Linked DNA regions of Homo sapiens. The protein of the gene in region 2 interacts with the protein of the main gene of each other region in a pairwise test. Each region holds a gene or a part of one and is shown on either strand. Other genes may lie near its edges. The genes, in order: COL26A1 and ZHX3.

Region 1 (16,009 bases), on a different chromosome or scaffold from region 2:
CTGACTGGGCAACAGAGTGAGACTCCGTCTCAAAAAGAAAAAAAAGAAAGTAAGTAAGTAAAGGAATAGAGAATGGCTACTCCATAGACAGAGCAGCCCTAAGGGCCGCTGGTTGCCCATTTTTATGATTATTTCTTGATGATATGCTAAACAAGGGGTGGATTATTCATGCCTTCCCTTTTTAGACCATAAAAGGTAACTTCCTGACATTGCCAAGGCATTTGCAAACTGTTATGGCGCTGGTGGGAGTGTAACAGTGAGGACGACCAGAGGTCACTCTCATCTCCATCTTGGTTTTGGTGGGTTTTGGCCGGCTTTTTTACTGCAACCTGTTTTATCAGCAAGGTCTTTATGATCTTGTGCTGACCTCCTATCTCGCCCTGTGACTTAGAATGCCATAACCATCTGGGTAAGTAGCCCAGTAGGCCTCAGCCTCATTTTACCCAACCTGTATTCATGATGTAGCTGCTGTGGTTCACGCACCTCTGACAAAGGCAGGGGCAACAATCTGTGCAAAGGCCCTGAGGCAGGAAGGATCTGGAGGGTGAGAGGCAGGAAGGATCTGGAGGGTGAAAGGCAGGCAATGGTGAGCAGAGCACCAAGAGAGACCAGGAGCACAGCCAGGTCTTCTCCCATCAGGCAGAGCCAGGACGGGGCTCCCTCCGAGCCCCTGATGCAGAGGCTCACCTGCCTGCTCCACTCCTGCCCTGGTAGACACACATGTTCAGAGTCCCTGTGTGAAGCGTTTCAGGGTCTAATTGTCATCAGTCGCAGAACAAAAGATGGGAAGAGGCTGGCAAATCCTGCAGCCAGCCAGGATCACATCACGGCAGAAATGGGTGCCCGGGGCAGGCCAAGACTTCTTGGAGCCCAAGCATCAGCCGTGTGGCCAAGTCAATCAAAGGAGGCCAGGAAGGGAGATAAACCCTCCCAGAAGAGCAGGAATGACAAAAATGTCAGAAGCCAGAGGCAACTGGCTGGGGCGCAGACAGCCGGAGCCAAATCAGAAGGAAACTGCTACCTTCTCTCAAAGGCTTCGTAACTACGGGGGCTGGGGAAGCCCAAGTGAGACTCCAGTGAGTGTTTGGCAGGCCTGGTCGCCTCCAGGGGCCGCACAGCCGCAGACATCCTGCAACAAACCCTGATCCAGGGACAACTCCCCGGGGAAAAGAAAAGTCTGAGCCGATCATAAAGACTCCAAGCAGGGGACATCCTCCAAGGGGCTGGGAACTGTCGGAGATTCTCGGACAAATGCCGCAGAGTCCTTGCATTTCCAGAACAAGAAAGGGGGTGGGAGATCAAATTCTTGCAAACAAAGACAGATAATATTTAGGCTGCAAACCACCACTCAGTCATGAGTGCAAACAGCTTACACACATGCAGAGCAAATGTCTGTCCCCCCACCGGTCTTGGTGTCCCCAGCCCCCAAGTCTGGAGGATCGCTTGAAGCCAGGAGTTCGAGACCAGCCTGGGTGACATAGGGAAACACTGTCTGTACAAAAAAAAATTTTTTTTGTTTTAGATGGAGTCTTGCTCTGTCGCCCAAACTGGAGTGCAACGGCATAATCTCAGCTCACTGCAACCTCTGCCTCCCCGGTTCAAGCGATTCTCCTGCTTCATGCATATAGGGAAATTTAGTATATGATAAAAGTGGCATTTCAAATTAGCAAGGAAGAATGGGTTATTCAATAAAAGTGTGAGGGCGGTTTGAGTAAAAAACTAAGTTAAATCCCTGCCTCACAGCCTATGGAGAAACAGAGCCAATACCAAGTAGCTGGGATTACAGCCATGCACCACCACACCCAGCTAATTTTTGTATTTTTAGTAGAGACAGGGTTTCAACATGTTGACCAGGCTGGTCTCGAACTCCTTACCTAAGGTGATCCACCTGCCCCAGTCTCCCAAAGTGCTGGGATTACAGGTTTGAGCCACCAGGCCCAGCCCCCCAAAAAATTTTTAAATGATAAATTAGCCAGACATGCTGGTGCACACCTGTAGTCCAAGCTACTCAGGAGGCTGAAGCACGAGGATCACCTGAGTCCGAGAGGTGGAGGCTGCAGTGACCTGTGATTGTGCCACCGCTCTCTAGCCTTGGTGACAGAGCAAGACCCTGTCTCTAAAATGTAAAAAAATTAAAATTTAAAAAAGGATAGATGGAGCCCTCATTCAAATGAACAGCAATGATCAGTCAGCCTATCTACTAAACACATTTCCTCATTTGATTCCAACCTATTTTGTTTTGTTCACTGATGAGGGACTAAAGCAATGAAGGGAAGTTGCTGGCTTAACTGTGGGTCCTTCAGAAGTAAGTCACTGCTGGTCATAGTAGCTCCTACCTGTAATTCCAGCACTTTGGGAGGCTGAGGGAGGAGAATCGCTTGAGCCCAGGAGTTCAAGACCAGCTTGGGCAACGTTGCAAGACCCAGTCTTTACAAAAAATACCAAAATGATACAGGCATGGTAGTGCATGCCTATAGTTCCACCTACTCGAGAGGCTAAGGTGGAAGGATCACTTGAGTCCAGACAGTCAAGGCTGCAGTGAGCTATGTGATCACATCACTGCATTCCAGCCTGAACAACAGAGTGAGACCCTGGCTCCAAAAAAAAAGTGAGTCACTGCAGGCTGGCTGCATGAGACAAGGCAGAAAAAGCCCTTTCCCCCCAACCTTAGGGCCTCCCCAGGTCCCTTCTGCTCTCACACTGTCTGGGACATGAAGCTCATCAGAAATCCTCAGCCGGGCACAGTGACTCATGCCTGTAATCCCAGCACTTTGGGATGCCAAGGTGGGAGGATCACTTGAGGCCAGGAGGTTGAGACTGACCTGGACAACATAGTGACACCCCCATCTCTATTTAAAAGGAAAAAAGAAAAAAGAAAAGAAGGCCAGGCACAGTGGCTCAGGCCTGTAATCCCAGCACTTTGCGAGGCCGAGGCAGGCGGATCACCTGAGGTCAGGAGTTTGAGACCAGCCTGGCAAACATGGTAAAACTCTATCTCTACTAAACATACAACAGTTAGCCAGGTGTGGTGGCAGGTACCTATAATCACAGCTACTCGGGAGACTGAGGCAGGAGAATCACTTGAAGCCAGGAGGCAGAGATTGCAGTGAGCTAAGATCACGCCACTGCACTCTAGTCTGGGTGACAGAGCCAGACTCTGCCTCAAAAAATAAATAAAGAAAATAAAATAAAGAAAATAAATCCTCAGCCTCAGTCCTCACCACAGGCATCTGAGCACCCTCCGATCCCTCCCATCTGCTCCTCAATCACATCTGGGGATGATCCTCTGCACTGACGCCCAAAGTGGCTGAGGTTCAGCTGGGAGTGCAGATAGGCCCACACCCCTCACTCTGGTCTTGAAAACCTGAGCAGGGTCCTAAGAGACAAGGAAAAACCATCAGGATTACAGCTTCTGTTTTCTCCGGCTCCCCTGCAGCAGCAAGGGTGGGCTCAGCTACAGGAGAAGGTCCGAAACGACCCCAGTGAGCAGGCTTAGGACCAGCTCTGGGAGAGCACCGGAAACCTATCAGGACATTTTGCTCATCCTACAAGACCTGCTTTGAATGGAGACTCCTCTAGGAAGTCCTCAGCATTTAGCCCCCATCCACAACAGCATCTCACAGGGTGTGCAGTCTGAAAGACACCACCCTGGCAAAAGGCACCCTAGAAAAGGATTCTGTGGCCTCATATGTTTGTTGTTTTGTTTTGGGGAGGATATTTTTGAGACTTTTTTTGAGACAGGGTCTCACTCTGTCACCCACACTGGAGTGCAGTGACTTAATCATAGCCTCCACCTCCTCGGCTCAAGTGATCCTGCCGCCTCAGCCTCCCCTCCCAGGTAGCTGGGACTATAAGCATTCAACACCACACCTGGCTAGTTTCTATTCTTTTTTTTTTTTTTTTGTAGATACAGGGTCTTGCTATATTGCCAAGGCTGGGCTCATGCTTCTGGGCTCAAGTGATCCTCCCACCTCAGCCTCCTCTCCCAAGTAGCTGGGACTACAATCACACATCACCGTGCCTGGCTAATTTTCTTTTTTTTTTTTTTTTTCTTTGAGATGGAGTCTCACTCTTTCGCCCAGGCTGGAGTGCAGTGGCGCGATCTTGGCTCACTGCAAGCACCGCCTCCCGGGTTCATGCCATTCTCCTGCCTCAGCCTCCCAAGTAGGTGGGACTACAGGCACCCGCCACCACACCCAGCCAATTTTTTTATTTTTAGTAGAGACAGGGTTTCACCGTGTTAGCCAGGATGGTCTGGATCTCCTGACCTCGTGATCTGCCCACCTCAGCCTCCCAAAGTGCTGGGATTACAAGCGTGAGCCACCGTGCCTGGCCAATTTTCTTTTTCTTTCTTTCTTTCTTCTGTAGATATGGGGTCTTGCTATGTTGCCCAGGCTGGTCTCACACTCCTGGGCTCAAGCAATCCTCCTGCCTCAGCCTCCCCTCCCAAGTAGCTGAGATTGCAAGTGTGCCCTACCACACCTGGCTAATTTTTATTTTATTTTTTTGTAGACAGGGGATTTCGCTATGTTGCCCGGGCTGGTCTCGAACTCCTGGTCTCAAGTGATCCTCATGCCTTGGCCTCCCAAAGTGCTGGGATTATAGGTGTGAGCCACTGTGCCCAGCCATGCTTCCTATGTTTGTGAAATCCATCATCTTCCCAAGCTTTGCCAAGTCCCCATCAGCACACTACACCATCTGAGAGAAGCCTTTATCCTTTCATATGGCCTCCTAGAGCACATACTAGACATTGTTCTAAGCGCTTGATTAATATTAACTTGCATAAGCCCCAGAATGACCTTATGAAGGAAACACTCTAATCATACCCATTTTATAGATGAGGTGACTGAGGCATAGAGAGGGCAGGCAACTTAGTCAGGGCCACACAGAACCTGGACTCAGACTCAGGCAGCCTGGTTCCAGATCCTACTCTTCACAGCCTTCCTCTTTTTTTTTATTTATTTAAAAAAAATTTTTTTTTAAGATGGAGTCTTACTCTGTCACCCAGGCTGGAGTGCAGTGGTGTGATCTCGGCTCACTGCAACCTCCGCTTCACAGGTCAAGCGATTCTCCTGCCTCAGCCTCCCAAGTAGCTGGAATTACAGGTGCCCGCCAACACACCTGGCTAATTCTTTGTATTTTTATTGGAGACAGGGTTTCACCATGTTGGCCAGGCCGGTCTCAAACTCCATCATGACCTCAGATGATCTGCCCGCCTTGGCCTCCCAAAGTGTTGGGATTACAGGCGTGAGCCACCGTGTCTGGCCTGTGCACTTTATTTCTATTATTATGACATTGTAATATATAATGAAATAATCCTACTACTCACCATCATGTAGAATCAATGGGAGCCCTGAGCTTGTTTTCCTGCAACTAGACGGTCCCATCTGGGGGTGATGGGAGACAATGACAGATCATCAGACATCAGATTCTCATAAAAGTGCATAACCTAGATCCCTCGCCTGTGCAGTTTACAACAGGGCTGGAGCTCCTATGAAAATCTACTGCCGCTGCTGGTCTGACAGGAGGCAGAGCTAAGGCAGTAATGCGAGCGAGGGCAGCAGCTGTAGAGATGAAGCTTCAGGCTTTTTCGCCTATCACTCACCTCCTGCTGTGCGGCCCGGTTCCTTGAACTGGTCTTGAACCGGTACTTGTCTGTGACCTCAGGGTTGGGGACTCCTGCTTTACATAGATCACTCTGGAGGTAGTTAGGGGTGGGGCAAACAAGGAGATGCAGGGGGCCAGAACGCACACCGCTCTCCTCCAGTATTTCAGAATTAACCTGGACTCAGTCCAGCTTGTTTCAGGGTAGTCTGTTACAGGACTCCGAAGAGAAGCTCTAGACCCTGGTTTCTGGGAGGCAGGTAGAGACAAGGCCAGGCTGGGAAGGCCAGGGACCCCTGACAACTCGGAGGGCAGAACAGCACGGCATGTGTATGTTTCCGTAGGATTGTCTGCAGAATTCCCGGAGCACTTTGTGCTAACATTCCCGAAAATCCTCTAACAGTTAGTTATTGTTGCTCTTTTCCCCTGCCCCAGGCTGAATTGGTCCGGGTCCAGCTCACACACTCTGGAAGTGGCAATGAAGTGTCACACGAGTTCGAGCCAAGAGAAGCCTGGAGGAGTGCTCTTATTGCCATAGGAATTGTTTCTCTGGGAATGGATTTTAAAATAACAGATGAGCTGGGGGAAGAGGGGAGTGAGATGAAGAGAGGGAAGATTCAGAAAATCCTGGAGCTTGAGGACAAGGTCTCACTGATATTAACATCAAAGCCATTCTGTGTGATTCTCAGGAAAAGTCTCCCTCCTCTATGTGCTCACACTTCAAAGGGAGAAGCGGGACCTCTAAAGCTGGAGTCTCCATGGTTCCCCTAAAAGCAGCTTCAGGAGCTGGCCTGTGCAGAGAAAGGGACCTCGCTCCAGGATCCCTCAGAACTGCAAACGTGCACTGAGGCAGAGGCACTGCCTCGGTGTCCCAAAGGAGAAAGGTCAAGGTATTTGTTCATTCATTCATGTGTTCATTCATTCACTCAACAAACTTTCCTTGAGCACCTGATCCGTGCAAGTCCAGGAGATGCTGAAATTTGGGGTTGAAAACTCCATGCAGGAAAAATAAAAGTATTTCACAAAAATGCAAGATGTTTGAACTCTGCTTTGCTGCCATTGCAAACCAAGAAAGTGCTGCAAAAAATTTGCAATGTTCTGAGAAGCAAAGCAGCAGGCTCCTTGGTGTCCCCCAGGCACTGGAGACAGCCAGGAGCTCAGGCCTGTAGCCTGTCTCTGCCTATCCGTGATCCACCAAGGGGCCAGGTCCTGCTAGCTCTGAGCACTCCCTTCTCCCCTGCTCCATCCATCAACTACCTCCTAACTGGCCTCCCTCCTTCCACTATCCTTCCTCTGCCAGCCTCTCCCCGACCAGCAAAGTTGGCACAAGCCTGACTGTGACAAAGCCCAGACTATGAAGGCAAGCTCCTCAAGGTGGCAGGAAGGAGACTTCACATCCAGACTCCAAAAGCTCAGTGCCTGTCCTCTGCCTGCCCAAGCCCATGGTCTGCTCTTGCTCTGTCACCCTGATTGGAGTGCAGTGGCACGATCATAGTTCACTGCGGCCTCAAACTCCTGGGCTCAAGCAATCCTCCCACCTCAGTCTCCTGAGTAGCTGAGACTACAGGTGTGTTCCACCACACCTGGCTAATTTTTTATTTTTGGTAGAGACGGGGTCTTGCTGTGTTGCCCAGGCTGGTCTTGAACTCCTGAGCTCAAGCAATCCTCCCACCTTGGCCTCCCAAAGTGCTGGGATTACAGGCATGAGCCACCACATCCCATTAGTCCAGCCACTCTGAACTCAGTCCCACTAACTATATGTCAGGCAATAGCTAATGACACTTCCAAGCCTTTACACAGTTGTCTGTCTGCCCAGAATGCCCCAGTCACTGCCTCAAGCTCTCCTGTTCATCCTACAAAACCCACCTCCTATGTTGACTCCTCTGAGAAGTCCTCAACATTTAGTCTCTATCCACTAGAACATTTCCCTAAGTATGTGGTCAGGAACACAATCCTAACAAAATGCTCCCCAGAAGGCCAGGTGCGGTGGCTCACACCTATAATCCCAGCACTTTGGGAGGCCAAGGCAGATGGATCACTTGACGTCAGGAGTTCAAGACCTGGCCAACGTGGAGAAACCCCAGCTCTACTAAAAATACAAAACTTAGCCTGGCATGTTGGTGGGCGCCTGTAATCCCAGCTACTTGGGAGGCTGGGGCAGGACAATCGCTTGAACCCTGGAGGCGGAGGTTGCAGTGAGCCAAGATCGCACCACTGCACTCCAGCCTGGGCAACACAGCCAGACTCCGTCTCAAAAAACAAAATGCTCCCCAGAAAAAGATTCCAAGGCTTCATATATTTGTGGAACTCCCCCGTCCTTGCAACCTTTGCAAGGCATATGAATGCAGTCCACGGTCACATTCATGAACAGAGGGTTTACTATCCTTTTTCCTAAGAACATTATTAATATTAACCCATGTAAGCCCCAGAACAACTTAATGAAGTACTGAAGTCATTCCCATTTTACAGATGAGAAAACTGAGGCACAAAGACTCCCAGGCTCCCACAAACCCTAACTCCCCTAGCTCACTTTGCACACATTTGTATCACACCAAATTCCACTCTTGCTCATGGATCTGTTTTCCCCAACCAGTCTCTGAGCTCATCAAGGACGGAGGCTGGGTCTGAAACATCTCACTGCCCCAGAGACAGGGTCTCACTCTGTCACCCAGGCTGGAGCGCAGTGGTGTAATCATAGCTCACTGCAGCTTCAACTTCCTGGGTTCAAGCGTTCTTCCCACCTTAGCCTCCCAAATACCTGGGACTACAAGTGTGCACCACCATGCCCAACTAATTTTTTAAAGTTTTTTTTTTGCAAAGACAGGGTCTGACTATATTTCCCGGGCTGGTCTCAAACTCCTGGGCTCAAGTGATCCTCCTACCTCAGCTTCCACCAGGACTACAAGTGTGCACCACCACACCCAGCTAATTTTTTAATTTTTTTTTTTTTTACAGAGACAGGGTCTGGCTATGTTGTCCCAGCTGGTCTCAAACTCCTGGGCTCAAGTGATCCTCCCACCTCGGTCTCCCAAAGTGCTGGGATTAAAGGCATGAGGCACCATAGCTAATCACAGTTGCCAATTCTTGAATGTAGGGAACCAGAGAGCAAAGGCAGGGGTCCAACACTGCAGAGGCATGCAATCCAGTCGGAGGGACAAGTCCCCATGGATGTGATCATCCACTTCCCCAGAGTCTGCTGAGCTCTTCCTCCATGCAGGCCACCAGGCACAGCCCCCTGCCTTCACGTTTGAGTCCCCAGCCTCTACCCTACCTACACGTGGGCTCAGTGAATGCAAGGTGATTAAATGCCTGACCTGGAGCGGCTCACATTTCCAAGAGGCAGTGGTGGGTGGTGGGCAGGGCTAAGCTCCAGCTCATGCACGCTTGCCCAAGGACGGCTGCTCAGAGCCACTCCTGTAGGGAGTAAATGAGGAAGGAGAAATGACTCCATCTGCAAGGAGGGAAACTGGGGAAGTGAGTTCTAGAACCAAAACCACAATCACAGATGCAGGGGCTACCCACAAATCACAGGTGCAGGGGCTACCCACAAATGAGATGAACAGAAAGCTGGGAGGTAAATCCAGAGAGACTTCCTGGAGGAAGGGTGCTTGTGGTTCTACCAAAAGAGGGGGGAGTCAAGGTAAGAGGGAGGCATTTTGAGTGAGGAGGGGACACACCAAGCACTTTGGCTTAGACGAAACCACAAGAAAGTGAATTCAGAGACAGAGAGAGTTTGAAGCAGCAGGTATAGATGAAGGAAAGGTGGGCAGGGTGCAGTGGCTCATGCCTGTAATCCCAGCACTTTGGGAGGATGAGGTGGGCAGATAACCTGAGGTCAGGAGTTCGAGACCAGCCTGGCCAACATGACAAAACCCCATCTCTTCTAAAAATACAAAAAATTAGCCAGGCATGGTGGTGCATGCCTGTAATACCAGCTAGTCGGAAGGCTGAGGCAGGAGAATCGCTTCAACCTGGGAAGCGGAGGTTGCAGTGAGCTAAGATCGTGCCACTGCACTCCAGCCTGGGCAACAGAGCCAGACTCCGTCTCAAAAAACAAAAACAAAACAAACAACAACAACAAAACAAACAGTGTGTCAGCTTGATTTTATACTTTTAAATATCTAGCCAAATGGTGAATGGTCTTCATCTTTAGTCTTGCCCCAAGCCCCAAAAAGGTTAGGGGTGGCCAGGACTTGCAGGTGCTATAAGATCAGGGAAGTCTATTCTTACCCCTGAAAGGCCATATCAACCAGCATCATTTAAAATGTCCTCTTCAGGCCAGGCGCGGTGGTTCATGCCTGTAATCCCAGCACTTTGGGAGGCTGAGGCGGGTGGATCACCTGAAGTCGGGAGTTTGAGACCAGCCTGACCAACATGGAGAAACCCATCTCTACAAAAAATACAAAATTAGCCAGGCATGATGGCACATGCCTGTAATCCCAGCTACTACGGAGGCTGAAGCAGGAGAATCGCTTGAACCTGGGAGGCGGAAGTTGCGGTGAGCCGAGATCATGCCATTGCACTCCAGCATGGGCAACAAGAGCGAAACTCCATCTCAAAAAACAAATAAATAAAATAAAATAAAATGGACTCTTCAAAATGTACCCCAAGAAGAAACTGCTGATGGGAATGCAAAATGCTGTAACCCCAGTGGAGGGAAACTTGACGCTATCTAGCAGAATTAAACATGTGTTTGCCATTTACCAACACAAGTGTCTATCAGTAGAGGACTAGCTGAATAAATACAGTCACTCACACTGTACAGAACAACAGACCCATAAAAATGGATGCAGAACTCTACTAAAAAAAAATACAAAAATATTAGCCGGGTGTGGTGGCGGGTGATTATAGTCCCAGCTACTCAGAAGGCTGAGGCAGGAGAATGGCCTGAACCCGGGAGGCAGAGCTTGCAGTGAGCCGAGATTGCGCCACTGCACTCCAGCCTGGGCGACAGAGCGAGACTCTGTCTCAAAAAAAAAAAAAAAAAAAAAAAGATGCAGATTACCTTTGCTTTATTTATTTATTTATTTAAGACTGAGTCTTGCTCTGTCACCCAGGCTGGAGTGCAGTGACGTGATCTCAGCTCACTGCAACCTCCACCTCCTGGGTTCAAGCAATTCTCCTGCCTCAGCCTCCTAAGTAGCTGGGATTACAGGCATGCGCCACCATGCCCAGCTAATTTTTGTATTCTTAGTAGAGAAGGGGTTTCACCATGTTGGCCAGGCTGGTCTCGAACTCCTGACCTCAAGCGATCCACCCACCTTGGCCTCCCAAAGTGCTGGGATGACAGGCGTGAGTCATCATGCCCCCCCATCTTTGCTTTTTGATAGAGCCATCTCCACAACACGTTATGATGGAAAAAGGCCAAGTTGAAGACAGAGTAACTAGCATATTACCTCTGTGTAAGAAAAGGAGGAGGATACAGACACAAACACACACATACTCATACACACTGTTACGCTCACACACACACATACACACACAAATTGCTTACATTTGCAAAAAGAATTTTTTTTTTTGGAAAGAGCCAGATTTTGAGTGAGTTTTTTCTACCTACAAATAGTAAATAAGGGGGAAATTATAAGTATTCTAGCAATTACGAATTTTAAAAAGAGTCAAAATTATAGTACTACTTTGAAGTAGGAGGCGGGACTTGACTCTGGAGGTTGGGGTTGACACCGGACCAAATTGAGGACTAGCTAAAACAGGTTAGGACGAAGCACATCCCCATAAGACTCACTCACCAGGGCACCATGTCAGTTACCATTTGCCAGGGCAACACCCGGAAGTTACCATGCCTTTCCATGGCAACAACCCAACAACCTAGAAGTTACCACCTTCATCCTAGAAATTCCTGCATAAACTGCCCCTTAATTTGCATATAGTTAAAAGTAAGTATAAATAGTGCCAAACTGCCTCTGAGCTGCTAGTCTGGGCACACTGCCTATGGGGTATCCCTGCTCTGCAAGGAGCAGGACCTCTGCTGCAGCTGTACACTGCCACATCAATTAAAGTTGCTGTCTGAAACCACCCACTCACCCTTGAATTCTTTCCTGGGTGAAGCCAAGAACCCTCCTGGCTAAGCCCCAATTTGGGGGCCTGCCTGTCTTGCATCCACTTTGCGATCCTTAATGAAAGAATGACATACGCAATGATCACCAACACCTCAAGCATCACGAGAGAAAAAGAGAGACAACCAGACGTTGTGATTTCCAATGGAAAAACACTACAGCACCCAAGATGTAATTCTGCCAAAATAGAAAACGAAGGAGGAGGAAGAACTAGATCCAACCAAGCTCTTGATCTAATTTCCCATTATCTGGAAATAAAGAGGACAGATGAACATGTTCACAGGCACCATGAGCATATAACCAACAAAATCCTGAAAAAGGAACAATCTAGAAGGCCAAGTTTCTTCAACAAATAAATTGCAACAAAAAGAAGGGAGACAGTGGAGGAGACTTGTAGACAGTGGTGTTCTGCTGAATATTTAACACCCAGCTTTCCAGAATAAAGCCACATCCTTCTGTTAGTCAGCTCAAGGTTGCCGTAACAGAATACCACAGACTGAATGGCTTAAGTAGCAGACATTTATTTCTCATAGCCCTGGAGGCTGGGAAGTCTAAGATCAAGGTGCTGGCAGATTCAGTTCCTGGTGAGGGTTCTCTTTCTGGTTTGCAGACAGCCACCTTCTTGCTGTGCTGTGTCCTCACATGGCAAAGAGAGAGAGCTCTGATTTCTCTTCTTCTTTTTTTTTTTTTTTTTCTTTTTTGAGACAGAGTCTCACTCTGTTGCCCAGGCTGGAGTGCAGTGGCATGATCTCAGCTCATTGTACCCTCCGCCTCCCGGGCTTAAGCGATTTTAGTGCCTCAGCCTCCCAAGTAGCTGGGACTACCGGTGTGCACCACCACGCCCGGCTAATTTTTGTATTTTTAGTAGACACGGGTTTTCACCATGTTGGCCAGACTGGTCTCAAACTCCTGACCTCAGGTGATCCACCCACCTGGGCCTCCCAAAGTGCTGAGATTACAGGCATGAGCCACCGCACCTGGCCTCTCTTCCTGTTCTTATAACATCCCTAATCAAATAATGGGGCACAGCCCTCACAACTTCATCTAAATCTAGTTACCTCCAAAGGTCCCCCCTCCAAATACCACCACATTGGAGGATAGGGCTTCAACATATGAATTTGGTGGGGACACACACATCAGTCCAGAGCATCTCCTGATATAATATGGTAGACTAGACCACCTATGAAGAATTTCTGTCTCTCCCAGCAAGCCCAAATAGAGACCATAAATCTAATCAAACCTTCCAACCTAACTTCCAAAATAGAAGAGATACAGGGGGCAGAGGATCCAATTAATTACACCACTGGGAAGCAATTAGTCAAAACTAGTACGTGGACATTGCAGATCAAGTTAACTACACCACTGGGAAGGAAATAGCTAAATCTAGTACGTGGACATCGCAGAGAACAACTGGTCTTCAACAAGTCAACAGCGTGGAGGAAAAAGTACTCTCTCAAAGGGGGAAGACTTTCCTACACTAAAAGGGAGAGAAAAGACAGAATAACCAATAAGCAGACTTATTTAGATCCTGATTTGAACAAACTAACAATTAAAAACTGCTTTTTGGCCAGGCACAGTGGCTCACACCTGTAATTCCAACACTTCGGGAGGCCAAAGCTGAAGGATTACTTGAAGCCAGGAGTTCAAGACCACCCTGGGCAACATAGCAGGACCCCACCTCTATGAAAAATTTAAAAGTTAGCCAGCCATGGTGGCCCATGCCTATGGTCCCAACTACTTAGGAGGCTGAGGTGGGAGGATTGCTTGAACCCAGGAGGTCGAGGCTGCAGTGAGCTATGATTGCACCATTACGCTCCTGCCTGGGTGACAGAGCAAGACCCTGTCTTTAAAAAAAAAAAAAAAAAAAAAAAAAAAAAAAAAAAAAAAAAAATCAGACGTTAACAAGGAGCAGTAACAATGAAATTAAAGCACTCTTTGTCAAGAAACAGCCCTGTCATCATTGCCTGTCAACTGAAGCCAAGCCCCGGTAAACACACTACTGAAGGCCAAGGCTGCAAGGACCACTGCTGTCCCCAAGCCTTCAGCTTCTGGACATCTTGGATCTCAAGGACAAGGGACACTTGTGATAGATAGCTCATGAGACACAGAAACATGTGACGCCCAAGCCAGCTCCAGCCTGTAACTCACCCAGGCAACAACCAGGTGCCTGCAATGCCCACGCTGGGCTTTCTGGGCAAAGAGACTCAGTCACACTCTGGAATATCAATGTGCCCCAAGCCTCCCCAACACCTTCTGGTATCCTTTTTAGGAATCCATTGCCCACAGATTCATCCACATCCTCCCTAAACCTAATTATATCCTCTCCCTGTTCTTATCCTGGTGGAAAGAGTTCTGGAAGATTCCACACTTGTTTGAGCCTCTTTTTGTTTGTGCTAAAATGATCCCTTCCAAGTTTCTGCAGATGTCCCCAAGTTCCAACCCACCAAATGCCAGAATGAGGTCCCCATTCGCTCCCGCTCTTCATGGTCCTCACCTCTTGCTTTTTTGCAGGCGTATTTCAGGCTGCAAACACCTTTTTTTTTTTCCTTCCCACACCTTTTAATTACAAAAGTATTACATGAATATACGCTCCTTGCAAAACATCCATTCAATCCCCGTACCGGCCAGTAGGTTCTCTTAGGGACCAAGCACAGTGGCTCATGCCTGTGATCCCAGCACTTCGGGAGGCTGAGGCAGGCAGATCATTTGAGGCCAGGAGTTTGAGACCAGCCTGGCCAACGTTACATTTTTTATTGGCCAACAATACAAAAATTAGCCAGGCGCAGTGGTGGGCACCTGTAATCCCAGCTACTTGGGAGGCTGAGGCAGGAGAATCACTTGAACTTGGGAGGCAGAGGTTGCAGTAAGCCAAGATTGCACCATTGCACTCCAGCCTGGGAGACAGAGCGAGACTCTGTCTCAAAAAAAACACAGAAACCAGAAAAACATTCAGACAAGCCACAAGCAGACAGAGGGAAAATGGGACAGTCCCCTGGCCCAGCCCTAGACTTCTTCATAACATTAACTGCTGAAATGGTTTCCTAGAAACTTTTTTCAGGCATTTATCTACCTAGATGTAGATCTGATTTTCCTTTTCATAAATGAAATCGTGCTGTATATATTATTCTGTAACTTGAAAAGCTTGTTTTTTAGACAATCCTCATATGGAACTGTGCAGAGGCCACACTAGCGTGGGTGTTTGGAGAATGCTCCTCATAGAAGCCCCGGGTAAGTATTTCCAAACAAAATGAGAGAAATAGGATTGCATACAAACTTTTCCAGAGGCACTTTTATGCTTTTCTGGGTCCCGCCCTATTCAGCCATGACTGTATATTTCTTCCCAGCATGAAACATCCCTGTCTCCTTGTTATTAAGGAATTAGCCAGAAATCATCTTGGAGTCCTCTGATTTGGTAAATATCAAGGAGAAAAAAAGAACTAGGAGCTGTCTTTTAGCTTTGATAGGCAGAGCAGTATGCTAGAAAACACCAGATCTGGGCCTGGCGTGGTGGCTCACGCCTGTAATCCCAGCATTTTGGGAGGCCGAGGCAGGAGGATCTCTTGAGGCCAGAAGTTTGAGACCAGCATGTGTAACACAGTGAGATCCCACCTCTACAAAAAATCAAAAAATTAGCCAGTCATGATGGTGTACACCTGTGATCTCAGCTACACAGGAGGCCAAGGTCGGGGGATCACTTGAGCCTGGGAGATCAGGTTTGCAGTGAGCTATGATCGCACCACTGCATTCCAGCCTGGGGAGCAAGCAAGACCCTATATTAAAAAAAAAAAAAAAAGAAAGAAAGCACAAGAGGTCAGTCCTGAGTGGCTCCTAGGCCTAGCAAATCCTGAGCCTCTGTTTCTTCAGCTAAAGGAAAGATACTACTCTAATGTTTTAACCCTAGGGTTGTTAAGGATCAAAAGAAATGGAGATTGGGAGGCCAAGGCGGGAGGATCGCTTGAGCCCAGGAGTTTGCGACAAGCCTGGGCAACAGAGTTGAGATTCTGCCTCTGCAAAAAAAAAAAATTAAAATATAAAAAAGAGACGGAGGGAACAGACACAGGTAGTGCATTCCAGAGCGCTGTCATAGCTGTGTAGGTTGTAGTTATCACTAAATGAGAAAAGCTAAATTCAAGCGAGTTATGCAAACGAGGCGTTTGGCAACTTTTACTTGCATGCTTATGGTTTTCTGGGGAAATTCAAATGCGGGCTCCGGAGCCGCAGCCCTGAGCGTCCCGGGGGTGGCCATGGCGCCACCTGCCGGCCGAGAGGAAGGAGACGCCTGGCGGGTCCCGGCGCCCGGGCCCGGTGACCCTGCGCCCTCTCCAACCCCGCCA
Region 2 (16,009 bases):
CAGGCCCAGCTAAGTTTTGTATTTTTTGTAGAGATGGGTTTTCACCATGTTGGCCAGGCTGGTCTCAAACTCCTGACCTCGTGATCCACCCGCCTCGGCCTCCCAAAGTGCTGGGATTACAGGTGTGAGCCACGGCACCTGGCCTATTTTTTCTTATGGCTTCAAGTTTCTGTTCAGTATCCTTTCATTTCAGCATGAAGGACTCCCTTTAGCATTTCTGGTAGGGCATGTCTACTAATAATGATCTCCTTCAATTTTATTTGGAAATGTCTGGATTTCTCTTTCATTTTTGAAGAATAGTTTTGCCATATACAGAAATCTTGGTTTAGAGGTTTTTTTTTTTTCTTTTTTTCACGACTTTAGATATGTCATCTCACTGCCTTTGGGCTTCCAAGATTTTTGATGAGGAATCGGCTGTTAATCTTGTCAAAAATTCTGTGTGACGAGTTGCTTCTCTCTTGCTGCTTTCAAAATCCTGTCTTCAGGTTTTGACAATCCTAATATAACATGTCTTGGTGTGGATCTGAGTTCATCCTGCTTGGATTTTATTGAGCTTTTTGGATGTGTAGATTCATGTCTTTCATCAGATTTGGGAAATTTTCTATCATTATTTCTTTAAATATTCTTTCTGTCCCTTTTCTTTTTCTGCGATTCCTATATGAGTATATGAGTATGAATATACTAATGAATATAATAACTATATGAATATATGAGTACATTAGTATGCTTGATGATGTCTCACAGCTCTCTCAGGTTTTTTTTCCTAAATATTTTTTTTCTTTCTTCTCCTTTGGATAATTTCAATTATTTTCTCTTCAAATTCACTGTTCTCTTCTTTTGCATGCCCAAATCTTTGTTGAATCCCTCTAGTGGGTTTTCCATTTCAGGGATTATACTTTTTAGCTCTAGAATTTGTTTGGTTCCTTTTTATAATTTCTATCTCTTTATTGATATTCTCATTTTGTTCATGCATGGTTTTCCTGATTTCCTTTAGTTCTTCGTCCATGTTTTCCTTTAGCTCGCTGAACATACTTAAGATAGTTGATTTAATGTCTTTGGGTAATAATTCCAATGTCTGGACTTCCTCAAGGATGGTGCCTGTCAATTTTTTTTCCTGTGAATGGACCATGGTTTTCTATTTCTTTTTATGTTTTGTAATTTTTTGTTGAGAACTGGACATTATGAGTATTACATTGTGGTAACTGAGAATCTAATTCTGTCATGCCTCAGAGATTGCTGATTTTTGCTTATTGAGGGCTGGAGCCAACTATTTGTGACTTTTCCAACTATTTTTGTGAAGTGTGTATTCTTTGCAGTATGGGGTCAGTGAAGTTTCTGTTGTGATATCTCTGTGGTTAACCAGTGACCTAAGATTTCCTTAAATATCTGGCTTGCCAAAAGGAGGAATAAAGAAAAAAAAAAATAGGTACTGTCTCTTTAAATCCCCTTGTGGCTAGAAAGCTCCCTCTGCCCAAGGGCATTGAGACAATGATCAGCCTCTGCACTGGCCCCCTCAGTGATTAAATGCAGTAATCAGAAATCAAAAAACTCTTTTTTTTTTTTTTTTGCAATGGAGCCTCACTCTGTTGCCCAGGCTGGAACGCAGTGGTGTCATCTTGGCTCACTGCAACTTCTGCCTCCCAGGTTCAAGTGATTCTCCTGCCTCAGCCTCCCAAATAGCTGGGATTACAGGCACTCACCAACATGCCTGGCTAATTTTTGTATTTTTAATAGAGACAGGGTTTTACCATGTTGGCCAGGCTGGCCTCAAACTCCTGACCTCAAGTGATCCACACCTCAGCCTCCCAAAGTGCTGGGATTACAGGTGTGAGCCACCACACCTGGCCACAAAAACTTGACTTTTGGAGGACAAAGTTGTTATTGCCTACCCTGGCACCAACAGTCTGCACCAGGAACATTTTCCACAGTTGCCTGCTGCAGAGCTTGCGGATGCTGAAACAAAAAAAAACCATCAAAATTTGTAAGCCTCTCCATCAAGCTCTTCCCTGGATGTTGCAAGTGTTCAACTAGACTTCTGAGTCCCAAAACAGTTGCTTGAGACAATTACTGCCAGCTCAACTGCTTTGGTGGAGGAAAAGATTCCTGGTGCTGCTACTGCCATCTTCCATAACATCATTCTCCATGTCAGCTTTCGTAATCAACTTGTTCAAACATCCTCATCTCTCTTGAGCATGACACCCTGGCCTACTGGTATATTACAAGAAGCACAGAGCTGGGTATAATATAAGGACCAACTTACAAACTTGGACAAAGACTTGTAGGAGAGACTACCTGCTCTGCATTATAAAAAAGTTAAACTAGCCATAAAAACCTGTTGTTCTGACTCCAGGGTGTGCCATCAGCTACTTTATAAAGCAGGCTGTGAGCTGTGGGCCCCAAAGGAGGGGAGTGTTTTGTTGTTGCCGTATTGAAAACATGGCTGGAGTTGGAGGAGGCTGTAAGGGAGCCAGTGGCCCTTGTACTCCTACCCTAAGTGCTGACCAGGGCTTTGGGCTCCACCAGGTGTTTGCTCTCACTGTGGGCTTTGTGGAACTGGATTTTGCCTTAGTATGTTAATATGAGAAGAACAGGCTTTCTGCAAATGCTAAACAGATGGATGACATGGTACTCCCCGCCCCCAACCCACCAAATTATGGGCCAAAAAGGAAGTCTCTTTTTCCTTAATTCAGTAAAGAAACAATAGCATAACTATGTTTCAAACTGTTGTGTTCAAATGAATTTAAAATATTCAGAGAAAGAAAAAGAATTTTGTCCTTTTTAAGACATCCTAAGTAGAAAGCAACTGGGGTGGAGGAGCTGGGATTTGCCAGGCCAAAATAAACAAACAACAATGGTTGGCTATTGTATGGAAACAATGCAACACCATCCAGGAAATTCTGTGGGATTTCTGAGGGATAGGCCACTATGGTTGGCCCTGGGGATGAGGTACCAAACACAAGGCCCCACACTGAGGCAGCTCATGCCAAAGTCACCACGGAACCATCACATTGCCCAACACCACAAATAGTGTCTCCTGTACCCCCTCCCACATTGCCAACTCAGCTAGCAATGCTGCCATTTTGGAACCCCCAATCCCTTCAGCTTCTACAATACTCCGCCCTCCTGGCTCTCACCTGAGCTTCTGGCTGCCCTCTGATGGGGTCTCTAATGAGAACACAAATGTCAAAGGGTAAGGAGGGAAGGGAGAGGCTGGGAACTCAGTGACCAGGAACCTAGAAAATCAACACGTAATAACATGACTTGTCTGTGGCTTCAAAACTATGTCTTAAATAAAAATAATCTTCTATGATACATTTTGCTTTCGAGTACAATCCAGAGAAACTGAGGAACAAAATTCAAGCTTTTGATTCCATGTATGTCAAAGAAGGAAGGTGATTTTCCATTATACTAAACATTTCTTCTACATCAGGCATAACCAGAGAAACACAAGACTTTCATCATCAGAAAAAAGCACATTATGTATCTAAGGACAATTAAAGGCTCTCTTTCCTTTTCATCAATTTGAGCTGAATTTCAACTCATGTCCTGTTGCTGTCTCCTACCCAGTGGCTGTGGATCTGCCCGACTCAGAGGATGTTTTGACCTGTTCTCCTATTGCTAAGAAATGGCTAGAAAAGCTTGGACCCCTTTAGGGTCACCATGTTCCTTCCCCTGCGCAGGTTTTTAAAAACACATGAAACAAAAAACAGCTCTCAACCGTTTATCATATTATATTCCTATGGCTTCTGCTGCTAGTTGTCCTCTGAAGCAGCCAGGCGGTTAATGCTGCTGCCAGGCAGCCTTAGAGACAGCAGATGCCCCTGTGCAGTAAATTCAGTGCCCAACCATAAGTGCCTCCTCCCCTTACCCACACAGGATAGCCATGGCCCCTGTGGACTCCTTACCGAGCTGACGTCCAGCCTGGGGACTCGATGTGTCAAAGGGCTCTGAGCTGGCCTCAGGGACACGGGGCTCCCACGACTCACTGTTCTCAGACACCTCTGAATAGGTGTCACCCATCCCTTTGTGAACTGCTGTGAGCTCACCAGTACCAGGGCCCTGGTCCTCACTGCCTGTGTCTGCCACGGCTCTGGTCTCCTCCCCCATTTTCTCAGCAAACCACTGCTTGACCTGCTGGGAGCTCATCTGGGTCTTGTCACAGAGGTTCTGCAGGTCCTCTTCATACAGCATCTTGTGTGTCATGTAATAGTCCTGCAGGAGCTCCCGGTTGCCAGGGGCAATGACCAGTAGCCCTGGTGGGAAGTTGCCTCGCTTATAGTCTTCGTACCATTTGAGTTGGCCGTTCTTCAGTGCGTACCTGCTATCTCCAAACCAGCGCACCACCTCTGGCCGTGGCAGACCCGTCTGGGCCATGATGGAGTCATAGTCCTGGTTGCTTGGCCACTGTGTCTGGACAAAGAGCTGCCGCAGCAAGTGCCGCTGCTGGGCAGTCTTTTTGCAGCTCACTTTGCCTGGGAGCTGCTCTGCCAGTTTGTTTGACTCATCATCCTCAGGGTCACAGGCACCCAGCCCTGGAATCTCGTTCCTGCCATTGGCTTCAGTGACCCTCAGGTTCTTCAGGTTGATTTTAATGGGGCTGACTTTGCGCTCTGCCAAGATATGGCTGCTGGGCATTTCCAGAGAGCCATTTTCACCAGAGACCCTTAGCTCACTGGCCAAATCCTCTTCTCCACCCTCATCCTCAGCAGCCTCCTCTTCCTCCTGAGAGGCATTCTCCTCAGCCTTCTTGGTCTCCTCAGCATTCACTTTTTTCCGTCTCTCTGAAAACCAGCTATCAATTTCTCGTCGGGTCATTTTGGTTTCACTTCTCAGGCGGTCCAGTTCCTCATCAAGAGGAAGAGGGTTTTGTGCAAAACTGCTCTCCAGGGCTCTGAGCTGCTCAGGGGCTCTCTCCTTGTATTTGGTTGGTGTGAAGTCAGGAGTCTGGTGCCAAGATTGTCGTTTGGCAGAAGGGTGGGTTGCTAGTGTGGCTGTTGTCGGAATGCAGGTTACCTCAGGGACCTTGGACGATGGGGAGAAGGACACCTCTGGCACAGAGTCAATGATGATGGAACTGTGATCTCCAGGTATCATCGCTCTGGAGCCCTTCAAGTTCCGGCAGTGGTATCTACGATCACTGAACCATTTCCGCACCTCTCTGGTACTGAGGCCCGTCACTTTTGTGAGATGTTCAACTTCGCTCTGCCCTGGGAACTGGTTCCGACAGAAGCTCCCTTTCAGAGCTGACAGCTGTTCATGAGATTTCTTATTTTTGTAGATGCTAGCATCAAGGAAGGCTTGGGAGGTTATGCTGGGGCAGGCCGTGAGGAGCGACTGGGCCGCATTGACCACCTTCACAGCTGACGTTGTATTTGAACACACAGTGTTAATGGGTGCCACACCTGGCTGCTTGGGGACGGATGTCACCGTGAGGGGGAGAGGGGAACTTGTTGCTTGCAACCCATTGGCCATCAATGGCTGAGTGACCAGAAGTCCCCCTCCTGTACCCTCTGGCTGCCCCACAACGTGACCTGGAAGAGCGGCCTGGATGAGATGCTGGACATTGCCAGCACTGGCGACGAGTGGGGTATTTAGAACCGTAATTGTGGGCTGAGGCACAGACTGGATGACTGTATTGAACATCTTTTTCCGGGCATCCTCAATCTCCTCAGGGGACCAGCTGATCCCCTGCTTCAGCCTTTGGGCTGTGAACCAGATCTTGAGCTGTTCTTCTGGATACTTGGTCACCACAGTCAAATAGCAGAGCTCGGCTTTGGTGGGGTAGGGGAACTTGTGGAAGGAGTTCTTCAGGAAGCTGTTAGAGTCCATGGCTGCATTGTACGTTGGAATGCTGCTCAGGGGGATCATCACTTTGGGAAGGGCCTTGGCCGTGGGCAGTGGCTGGTGGACATGGTGTTGGGCATGCACTGGGGGCTGCTGCTGGAGGGAGAGGAACTGTGCTATGCCAGCTGGCAAAACTGGCACTGTTCCTATCAGGGGCCCGTTGGCGGCATGGGGGTTTTTTGCAGAGCTGGCAGATGCCTGGCTGACTGGAACTGCCCCATTGATGAAGGAATGGTCCCCCTCTCTCACCTCCATTTCTCCAGTCGACAGCTTTGGTAAGGCCTCACCCACAGGCTGGCTAGGGACATTCTCCTTGAGTGTATGAATTTTTTTGGCTTCAGCTTTGCCTTTCATTATCTTCATGATTGGAGTTTTGGTAATGATGATTTCTGCCTGTCCATCAGCCCCTTCAGCACTGGGCTCACCCGCTAGGTCAGGAGTGCTGGTGCTCTCAGGGATGCTCTGCTCCACAACCACATGATTGTCTGGCTTGGCCACGTTCCACACAAAGCTGGCTTCCCCGGAGTGACATGTGGCATTGTGCAAGGAAAGCCCCTCAGGGGTTTTTGCCAGAAAACTGCACCCACTGCATACAAAGGTTGGGTCTTTATTAAAGTCTGTGTGCTCTGAGTTCATATGTCCCACAAATTGGGTCATGTCATGGGATCTGAAATCGCAGTATTTACAGGAATATAAATAGCCATCTAAAGTGCTCCGATGCCCATTGGCCAGTGTAGAGCCATCAGTACTGCTGGGGTTCTGTGCTGCCTCACTGCTGGCAGCAGATGCTTCTGGGGGCAGATCCTGCTGGGGTCCTTCAGGCAAGGTCTCAGCGGGCTGGGCCTCCATGCTGGCATCTTGCAACACCACAGTCTTCACTGGGATCATGCATGGTGTGGTGGATTTCCTCTTGCTGGCCATGGTGACAATCACTGGGTGATCAGCAGTTGAGAGCTTGTCCCATAAGGGGCCTAACAATACAAGTTCCAGCTTCTCGATGAGGGCCAAAGAAACAGTTTCTAAATGCAGCTTTTTCAGTTGTTTGCAGAAAGCAGGTTTTCCCTATTCAATCTAAGGAAAGGGAGAAAAAAATGATTAAGTTCTCTTAAGTGCTTTCTGTATATTTCTCGGATACCCAGACACATTCCACTGCTTGCCTTCTACCATCTAGGTCTTTTCACAGTAAGTTTAATCAGCAACTTGGATATGAAGTCTAAGTTAGGAACCCCCTAATGACAAAAACTGGACCCTGAAGAATGACCTGGGGATGGTCCAATACCAACTGATAGACTTAAGCAACGTATTTTTGTTTCTTCCCCACCACCCCCTACATATCCCTGCATTAAGTAATTCAGATTAAAAAACAAAACGCCCTCTTTTTGGACCTCCAAATTAATTCTGACCATGTCAGAGTGAGAACAAAAGATCCTAGTGTAATTCTTGTTTACATTTTGGACCAACACGCGGTTTTCTTTTCATAGCCTTCCCGCATATGAGAACAAGATGACGCCTCTGTCTGTCCCAAGCCAGGCCCAGGGACCAAGTTAGCTGCAGTGTGTGAACGGAAGGGGTGGGGTGGGCGGGGGTGGCTAGGAAGACCGGCTGCTGTAAGAGCCAGGCCTCTGTAGCCTTTCCTTGCCTGCCGCACTTATTCCAGGCCACAGAAAAGCGATCACCTTACAGTTACTGGCTGTTATGTATCCCGGACCACTGTTACTGAGATGAAACCAAAGGTCAGAGGGTCAGGGAATCCACAGAACCAGTTTGTGGCCCAGCAAGCTATACATTTTCTGTGTACGACCACTCAAAGGGTGGTCTCACCTTGAGATCTGAGAACAGTTGGACTGCCTCCCCAAGTGGGTCCCTGACCCCTGAGTAGCCTAACTGGGAGGCACCTCCCAGTAGGGGCCGACTGACACCTCATACAGCTGGGTGCCCCTCTGAGATGAAGCTTCCAGAGGGAGGATCAGACAGCAACATCTGCCGTTCTGCAGTATTTGCTGTTCTGCAGCCTCCATTGGTGATACCCAGGCAAACAGGGTCTGGAGTGGACCTCCAGAAAACTCCAACAGACCTGCATCTGAGGGTCCTGACTGTTAGAAGGAAAACTAACAAACAGAAAGGACATCCACACCAAAACCCCATCTGGACGCCACCATCATCAAAGACCAAAGGTAGATAAAACCACAAAGATGGGGAGAAACCAGAGCAGAAAAGCTGAAAATTCTAAAAATCAGAGTGCCTCTTCTCCTCCAAAGGAACGCAGCTCCTCACCTGCAATGGAATAAAGCTGGATGGAGAATGGCTTTGATGAGTTGAGAGAAGAGGGCTTCAGACGATCAGTAATAACAAACTTCTCTGAGCTAAAGGAGGATGCTCGAAGCCATCACAAAGAAGCTAAAAACCTTGAAAAAAGATTAGATGAATAGCTAACTAGAATGAACAGTGTAGAGAAGACCTTAAATGACCTGATAGAGCTGAAAACCATGGCATGAGAACTACATGACGCATGCACAAGCTTCAGTAGCCGATTTGATCAAGTGGAAGAAAGAGTATCAGTGATTGAAGATCAAATTAATGAAATGAAGCGAGAAGTTTAGAGAGAAAAGAGAAAAAAGAAACGAACAAAGCCTCCAAGAAATATGGGACTATGTGAAAAGAACAAATCTACGTCTGATTGGTGTACCTGAAAATGACAGGGAGAATGGAACCAAGTTGGAAAACACTCTTCAGGATATTATCCAGGAGAACTTCCCCAACCTAGCAAGGCAGGCCAACATTAAAATTCAGAAATACAGAGAACAACATAAAGATACTCCTCGAGAAGAGCAACTCCAAAACACATTAATTGTCAGATTCACCAAAGTTGAAATGAAGGAAAAAATGTTAAGGGCAGCCAGAGAGAAAGGTCGGGTTACCCACAAAGGGAAGCCCATCAGAATAACAGCGGATCTCTCGGCAGAAACTCTACAAGCCAGAAGAGAAGTGGGGGCCGATATTCAACATTCTTAAAGAAAAGAACTTTCAATCCAGAATTTCATATCCAGCCAAACTAAGCTTCATAAGTGAAGGAGAAATAAAATCCTTTACAGACAAACAAATGCTGAGAGATTTTGTCACCACCAGGCCTGCCTTACAAGAGCTCCTGAAGGAAGCACTAAACATGGAAAGGAACAACTGGTACCAGCCACTGCAAAAAACATGCCAAATTGTAAAGACCATCAATGCTAGAAAGAAACTGCATCAACTAACGAGCAAAATAACCAGCTAACATCATAATGACAGGATCAAATTCACACATAACAATATTAACCTTAAATGTAAATGGGCTAAATGCACCAAGCAGACCTAACTGACATCTACAGAACTCTCCACCCCAAATGAACAGAATATACATTTGTCTCAGCACCACAGCACACTTACTCCAAAATTGACCACATAGTTGGAAGTAAAGCACTCCTCAGCAAATGTAAAAGAACAGAAATTATAATAAACTGTCTCTCAGACCACAGTGCAATCAAACTAGAACTCAGGATTAAGAAACTCACTCAAAACCGCTCAACTACATGGAAACTGAACATCCTGCTCCTGAATGACTACTGGGTACATAACGAAATGAAGGCACAAAGAAAGATGTTCTTTGAAACCAATGAGAACAAAGACACAACATACCAGAATCTCTGGGACACATTTAAAGCAGTGTGTAGAGGGAAATTTATAGCACTAAATGCCCACAAGAGAAAGCAGGAAATATCTAAAATTGACACCCTAACATCACAATTAAAAGAACTAGAGAAGCAAGAACAAACACATTCAAAAGCTAGCAGAAGGCAAGAAATAACTAAGATCAGAGCAGAACTGAAGGAGATAGAGACACAAAAAACCCTTCAAAAAATCAATGAATCCAGGAGCTGGTTTTTTGAAAACATCAAAATTGATAGACAGCTAGCAAGACTAATAAAGAAGAAAAGAGAGAAGAATCAAATAGACACAATAACAAACAATAAAGGGGATATCACCACCGATCCCATAGAAATACAAACTACCATTAGAGAATACTATAAATACCTCTACGCAAATAAACTAGAAAATCTAGAAGAAATGGATAAATTCCTGGACACATACACCCTCCCAAGACTAAACCAGGAAGAAGTTGAATCCCTGAATACACCAATAACAGGTTCTGAAATTAAGGCAATAATCAATAGCCTACCAACCAAAAGAAGTCCAGGACCAGACAGATCCACAGCTGAATCTACCACAGGTACAAAGAGGAGCTGGTACTATTCCTTCTGAAACTATTCCAATCCACAGAAAAAGAGGGAATCCTCCCTAATTCATTTTATGAGGCCAACATCGTCCTGATACCAAAGCCTGGCAGAGACACAACAAAAAAAGAGAATTTTAGACCAATATCCCTGATGAACATCGATGCAAAAATCCTCAATAAAATACTGGCAAATCGAATCCAGCAGCACATCAAAAAGCTTATCTACCACGACCAAGTTGGCTTCATACCTGGGATGCAAGGCTGGTTCAACATATGCAAATCAATAAATGTAATCCATCATATAAACAGAACCAAAGACAAAAACCACATGATTATCTCAATAGATGCAGAAAAGGCCTTTGACAAAATTCAACAGCCCTTCATGCTAAAAACTCTCAATAAATTAGGTATTGATGGGACGTATCTCAAAATAATAAGAGCTATTTATGACAAACCCACAGCCAATATCATACTGAATGGGCAAAAACTGGAAGCATTCCCTTTGAAAACTGGCACAAGACAGGGATGCCCTCTCTCACCACTCCTATTAACATAGTGTTGGAAGTTCTGGCCAGGGCAATCAGGCAGGAGAAAGAAATAAAGGTTATTCGATTAGGAAAAGAGCAAGTCAAATTGTCCCTGTTTGCAGATGACATGATTGTATATTTAGAAAACCCCATCGTCTCAGCCTAAAATCTCCTTAAGCTGATAAGCAACTTCAGCAAAGTCTCAGGATACAAAATCAATGTGCAAAAATCACAAGCATTCCAATACACCAATAACAGACAAACAGAGAGCCAAATCATGAGTGAACTCCCATTCACGATTGCTTCAAAGAGAATAAAATACCTAGGAATCCAACTTACAAGGGATGTGAAGGACCTCTTCAAGGAGAACTACAAACCAGTGCTCAACGAAATAAGAGGACACAAACAAATGGAAGAACATTCCATGCTCATGGATAGGAAGAATCAATATTGTGAAAATGGCCATACTGCCCAAGGTAATTTATAGATTCAATGCCATCCCCATCAAGCTACCAATGACTTTCTTCACAGAATTGGAAAAAACTACTTTAAAGGTCATATGGAACAAAAAAAGAGCCCACATTGCCAAGACTATCCTAAGTCAAAAGAACAAACTTGGAGGCATCATGCTACTTGACTTCAAACTATACTATACTACAAGGCTACAGTAACCAAAACAGCATGGTACTGGTACCAAAACAGAGATGTAGACCAATGGAACAGAACAGAGCCCTCGGAAATAATACCACACATCTACAACCATGTGATCTTTGACAAACTTGACAAAAACAAGAAATGGGGAAAGGATTCCCTATTTAATAAATGGTGCTGGGAAAACTGGCTAGCCATATGCAGAAAGCTGAAACTGGATCCCTTCCTTACACCTTATACAAAAATTAATTCGAGATGGATTAAAGACTTAAATGTTAGACCTAAAACCATAAAAACCCTAGGAGAAAACCTAGGCAATACCATTCAGGACATAGGCATGGGCAAGGACTTCATGTCTAAAACACCAAAAGCAATGGCAACAAAAGACAAAATTGACAAATGGGATCTAATTAAACTAAAGAGCTTCTGCAAAGCGAAAGAAACCACCATCAGAGTGAACAGGCAACCTACAGAATGGGAGAAAATTTTTGCAATCTACCCATCTGACAAAGGGCTAATATCCAGAATCTACAAAGCACTTAAACAAATTTACAAGAAAAACATCAAAGAACCCCATCAACAAGTGCACAAAGGATATGAACAGACACTTCTCAAAAGAAGACATTTATGCAGCCAAAAGACACATGAAAAAATGCTCATCATCACTGGCCATCAGAGAAATGCAAATCAAAATCACAATGAGATACCATCTCACACCAGTTAGAATGGCGACCATTAAAATGTCAGGAAACAACAGGTGCTGGAGAGGATGTGGAGAAATAGGAACACTTTTACACTGTTGGTGGGACTGTAAACTAGTTCAACCATTGTGGAAGACAGTGTGGCCATTCGTCAAGGATCTAGAACTAGAAATACCATTTGACCCAGCCATCCCATTACTGGGCATATACCCAAAGGATTATAAATCATGCTGCTATAAAGACACATGCACACGTATGTTTATTGCGGCACTATTCACAATAGCAAAGACTTGGAACCAACCCAAATGTCCATCAATGATAGACTGGATTAAGAAAATGTGGCACATATACACCATGGAATACTATGCAGCCATAAAAAATGATGAGTTCATGTCCTTTGTAGGGACATGGATGAAGCTAGAAACCATCATTCTGAGCAAACTATCACAAGGACAGAAAACCAAACACCACATGTTCTCACTCATAGGTGGGAACTGAACAATGAGAATACTTGGACACAGGGTGGGGAACATCACACACCACGGCCTGTCGTGGGGTGGGGAGAGGGACAGCATTAGGAGATATACCTAATGTAAATGACAAGTTAACGAGTGCAGCACACCAACATGGCACATGTATACCTATGTAACAAACCTGCATGTTGTGCACATGTACCCTAAAACTTAAAGTATAATTTAAAAAAGAATTATAAGTAATCTTCACATATGCTTTTAAGTATTTTTTTAAAAGAAAGGAAAGAAGAAAGAAGAGGAAACCAGAAACAAATAATCATTACACTATCCAGACATTACATAACATCCCTTACCTGTGAATTTAGATGTATTGAACTTTTAATAAAATAGATTGACTTCACACTTTTAAAATGCTAAGAAAGAAAACAGCTAAGGCAGAAAACTAACCTGAAAACAAAACCAATGGTTTTATATATAAAAGACCGAAATTAAACAGTTGATAACTCAAAAAGAAATAATAATAATAATTGTTTCACAGGATGCCATGAGAAAAGGGATTCTGTGAGCCCTATTACTAATATAGAATGATAATCATCATTATTACTTTTCGTTTTAGCAAATCATAATGCTCTAATGACTAAAACAATAGTAATTCTAATACTAAAATCAAGTTATCAGTATTTGGATTTGATACAAAGATGTAAAGAAAATTAAAATATCTCTATTCAAATTCTCAGTAAATAAACACGGCTATTTTATGATGAAAATAATTTTTAAAACTTTGAAGGTGAGGGTAAACATAAACCCACTCTAACAACTTCTCACCCCTTCCCCCACCAATTTGAACTGGCATGCACACTTTTTTACTTAATTTTTAATTATAAAGATAAAATGTAATTTAAATAAATTTAATGTCTATAATTTGGTATACCTTCTCATTTAGTCCAGATATTTTATTCATATTTTTATCACAATGAGCACACATTTGTGCTTTTTTCACCAAACATTACGTTATAAACCTTTTTGTTACACAAGCTTCATAAGTTTAACATTTAATAGCTACCTAATAATGTACCACAATGAATTTGACTTATCCACCCCTGCTGTTGAAAAGCATGCCAATCTCATGGGTGACAGTGAAACAAACATCTCTGGGCATACAGGATGTTTTTCTTCTATCAAATTATTTCCTGAGGTTAAGTGCACAGGAATGGGCTTACCATCTCAAAGAGCATCAACATTTCTAAGCTCCTTTGTATATATCATTGGCAAACATTTTAAATCAAGTGCTTTATGATCCCAAATCAGGGAAACTAAAAATAATACAGTTATGGACCCAGTGAGCAAATCAGATTTTCAGACAAGTTATGGAAGACATCAAGTAGAATATCTGAAAGCACAAACGACAAAAGAAAAAACAGATAAATTGGATGTCATCAAAATTAAAAACTTGCATTCTTCAAAGGTCACCATCAAGAAAGTGAAAAGATAGACAATCCACAGAAAGAAAAGGTTTGCAAATCATCTATCTGGTAAAGTATATCCAGATTATATAAATAACTTACAACTCAACCATAGAAAGATAATTTTTAAACGGGTAAAGGATTTGAATAGACACTTCTCCAAAGAAGATATACAAATGGCCAGTAAAGCACATAAAAAACTGCTCAACATCATTAGTTATTAGGAAAACACAAATCAAAACCACAATGAGATACCACTTCACACCCACCAAGATGGCTGTAATTACAGCGACAGATAACAAGTATAGATGAGGATGCAGAGAAACTGGAGCCCTCACGTATTGCTGATGAAAATGTAAAATGGTATAGCCACTTTGGAAAACTGTTTGGCAAACAAAATGTTAAATATAGAGTTGCCATAAGATCCAGCAATTTGGCCGGGCGCAGTGGCTCACACCTGTAATCCTAGCACTTTGGGAGGCCAAGGCGGGCGGATCACCAGAGGTCAGGAGTTCAAGATCAGCCTGACCAACATGGAGAAACCCCATCTCTACTAAAAATGCTAAATTAGCCAGGCATGTTGGTGCATGACTGTAATCCCAGCTACTCAGGAGGCTGAGGCAGGAGAATTGCTTGAACCTGGGAGGCGGAGGTTGCAGTGAGCCAAGATCATGCCATTGTACTCCAGCCTGGGCAACAAGAGCTAAACTGTGTCTCAAAAAAAAAAAACCAAAAACAAAACAAAACAAAAAAAACAAAACACCAGCAATTTAATTCCTAAGTATATACACAGTATAAATAAAAACATGTCCACCCCAAAATATGTACACAAATGTTCACAGCAGCATTATTCAAATAATGGCCAAAAGGTGGAAACAACCCAAACATCTATCAGCTGGTGAATGGGTAAGTAAAATATGATATATCCATACGATGAATTCTTCAGCCATGAAAAGGAATGAAGTTCTGATGCATGCTGCAACATGGATGATCCTGATGCTAAGTGAAAGAAGTCAGACACAAATGTCACATACTGTATGATTCCCATTTATATGAAATATCCAGAAAAGGCAAATCCATAGAGGCAGATAGTAGATTAGTGGTTGCCAGGGACTGAGAGTAGGGGAGAAGGGGGAGTGGCTGCTAATGAGTCACCAGGCAATGAAAATTGTTCTGAAATTAGATAGTGGGGATGGCTGCACAACTCTGAATATGATAAAAACCTCAGGAAGGACATCGAAACCAAGAAAGGTAGAGGACAGTAAATTATAGCACTCAGTTCTATAGAAGAGGGTCAGCATTTACATTTCTAAGGTTTCAATATAGGTGACACAGTTCTGTGCTACTTCCTGACTCACCTTGGTAATATTTACTGTGGCCCTAGAGAAGCTGAATGGCAGTGCCTGTGAACATCAGGTTTGCCAGAGGAGAGGGAAGAGAGATGCAGACCTACTACCTGGAAGTAGCAACAACACAAAGGAAAAAGAGCATGAGCACACCAGAAGGCCAGGCAGCAGAACTCAGGAGAAGCTAACTGCAGAGCCCTAGCAACACAACACAAGCACTCCAGGCACAGGGCCAGAACTGCTATTTGTAATGGGGACTGGGATTCACTGAGGAAAAGGTATATAGTGTTCCTGGTATTTTACTTACTAAGGCTGAGAAGTGGACAACATGAAGATGGATTTGATTTTTGGCAATAGTCCCAATGTCATTCAAAATTAAGTCTTGGCCAGGCACAGCAGCTCACGTCTGTAATCCCAGCACTTTGGGAAGCCAAGGTAGGAAGATCATTTGAGGCCAGGAGTTCGGGATTAGCCTGGGCAACATAGAAATTGTAAAAAATTAGTCAGGAACAATGGTGTGTGCCTGTAGTCTCAGCTACTCAGGAGGCTGAGGTGGGAGGATCACCTGAGCCCAAGAGTTCAGAGTTACAGTAAGCAAGGATCATGCCACTGCACTCCAGCCAGGATGACAGAGCATGACCTTGTCTCTTAAAAAAAGAAAAATTAAGTCTCAAATTAGCCCTAAATTATCATTCGAATAAATGACTAAGAAGGGTACCACTGCTAACCATGTT

The links.
Region 1: the proteins of ZHX3 (region 2) and COL26A1 interact in binary tests that used the Homo sapiens proteins (3 or more experiments, as listed by UniProt).

Annotation. Positions count from the first base shown.
Region 1 is NC_000007.14:101,364,032-101,380,040, reverse strand, and holds part of COL26A1 (collagen alpha-1(XXVI) chain isoform 1 precursor), read right to left. Parts: intron 1-16,009.
Region 2 is NC_000020.11:41,198,152-41,214,160, forward strand, and holds part of ZHX3 (zinc fingers and homeoboxes protein 3), read right to left. Parts: intron 15,749-16,009; exon of another isoform or gene 15,583-15,748; intron 6,916-15,582; 5' UTR 6,766-6,915; coding exon 3,906-6,765; intron 3,234-3,905; coding exon of another isoform or gene 3,184-3,233; exon of another isoform or gene 3,135-3,183; intron 1-3,134. UniProt on the Homo sapiens protein: Acts as a transcriptional repressor. Involved in the early stages of mesenchymal stem cell (MSC) osteogenic differentiation. Is a regulator of podocyte gene expression during primary glomerula disease. Binds to promoter DNA.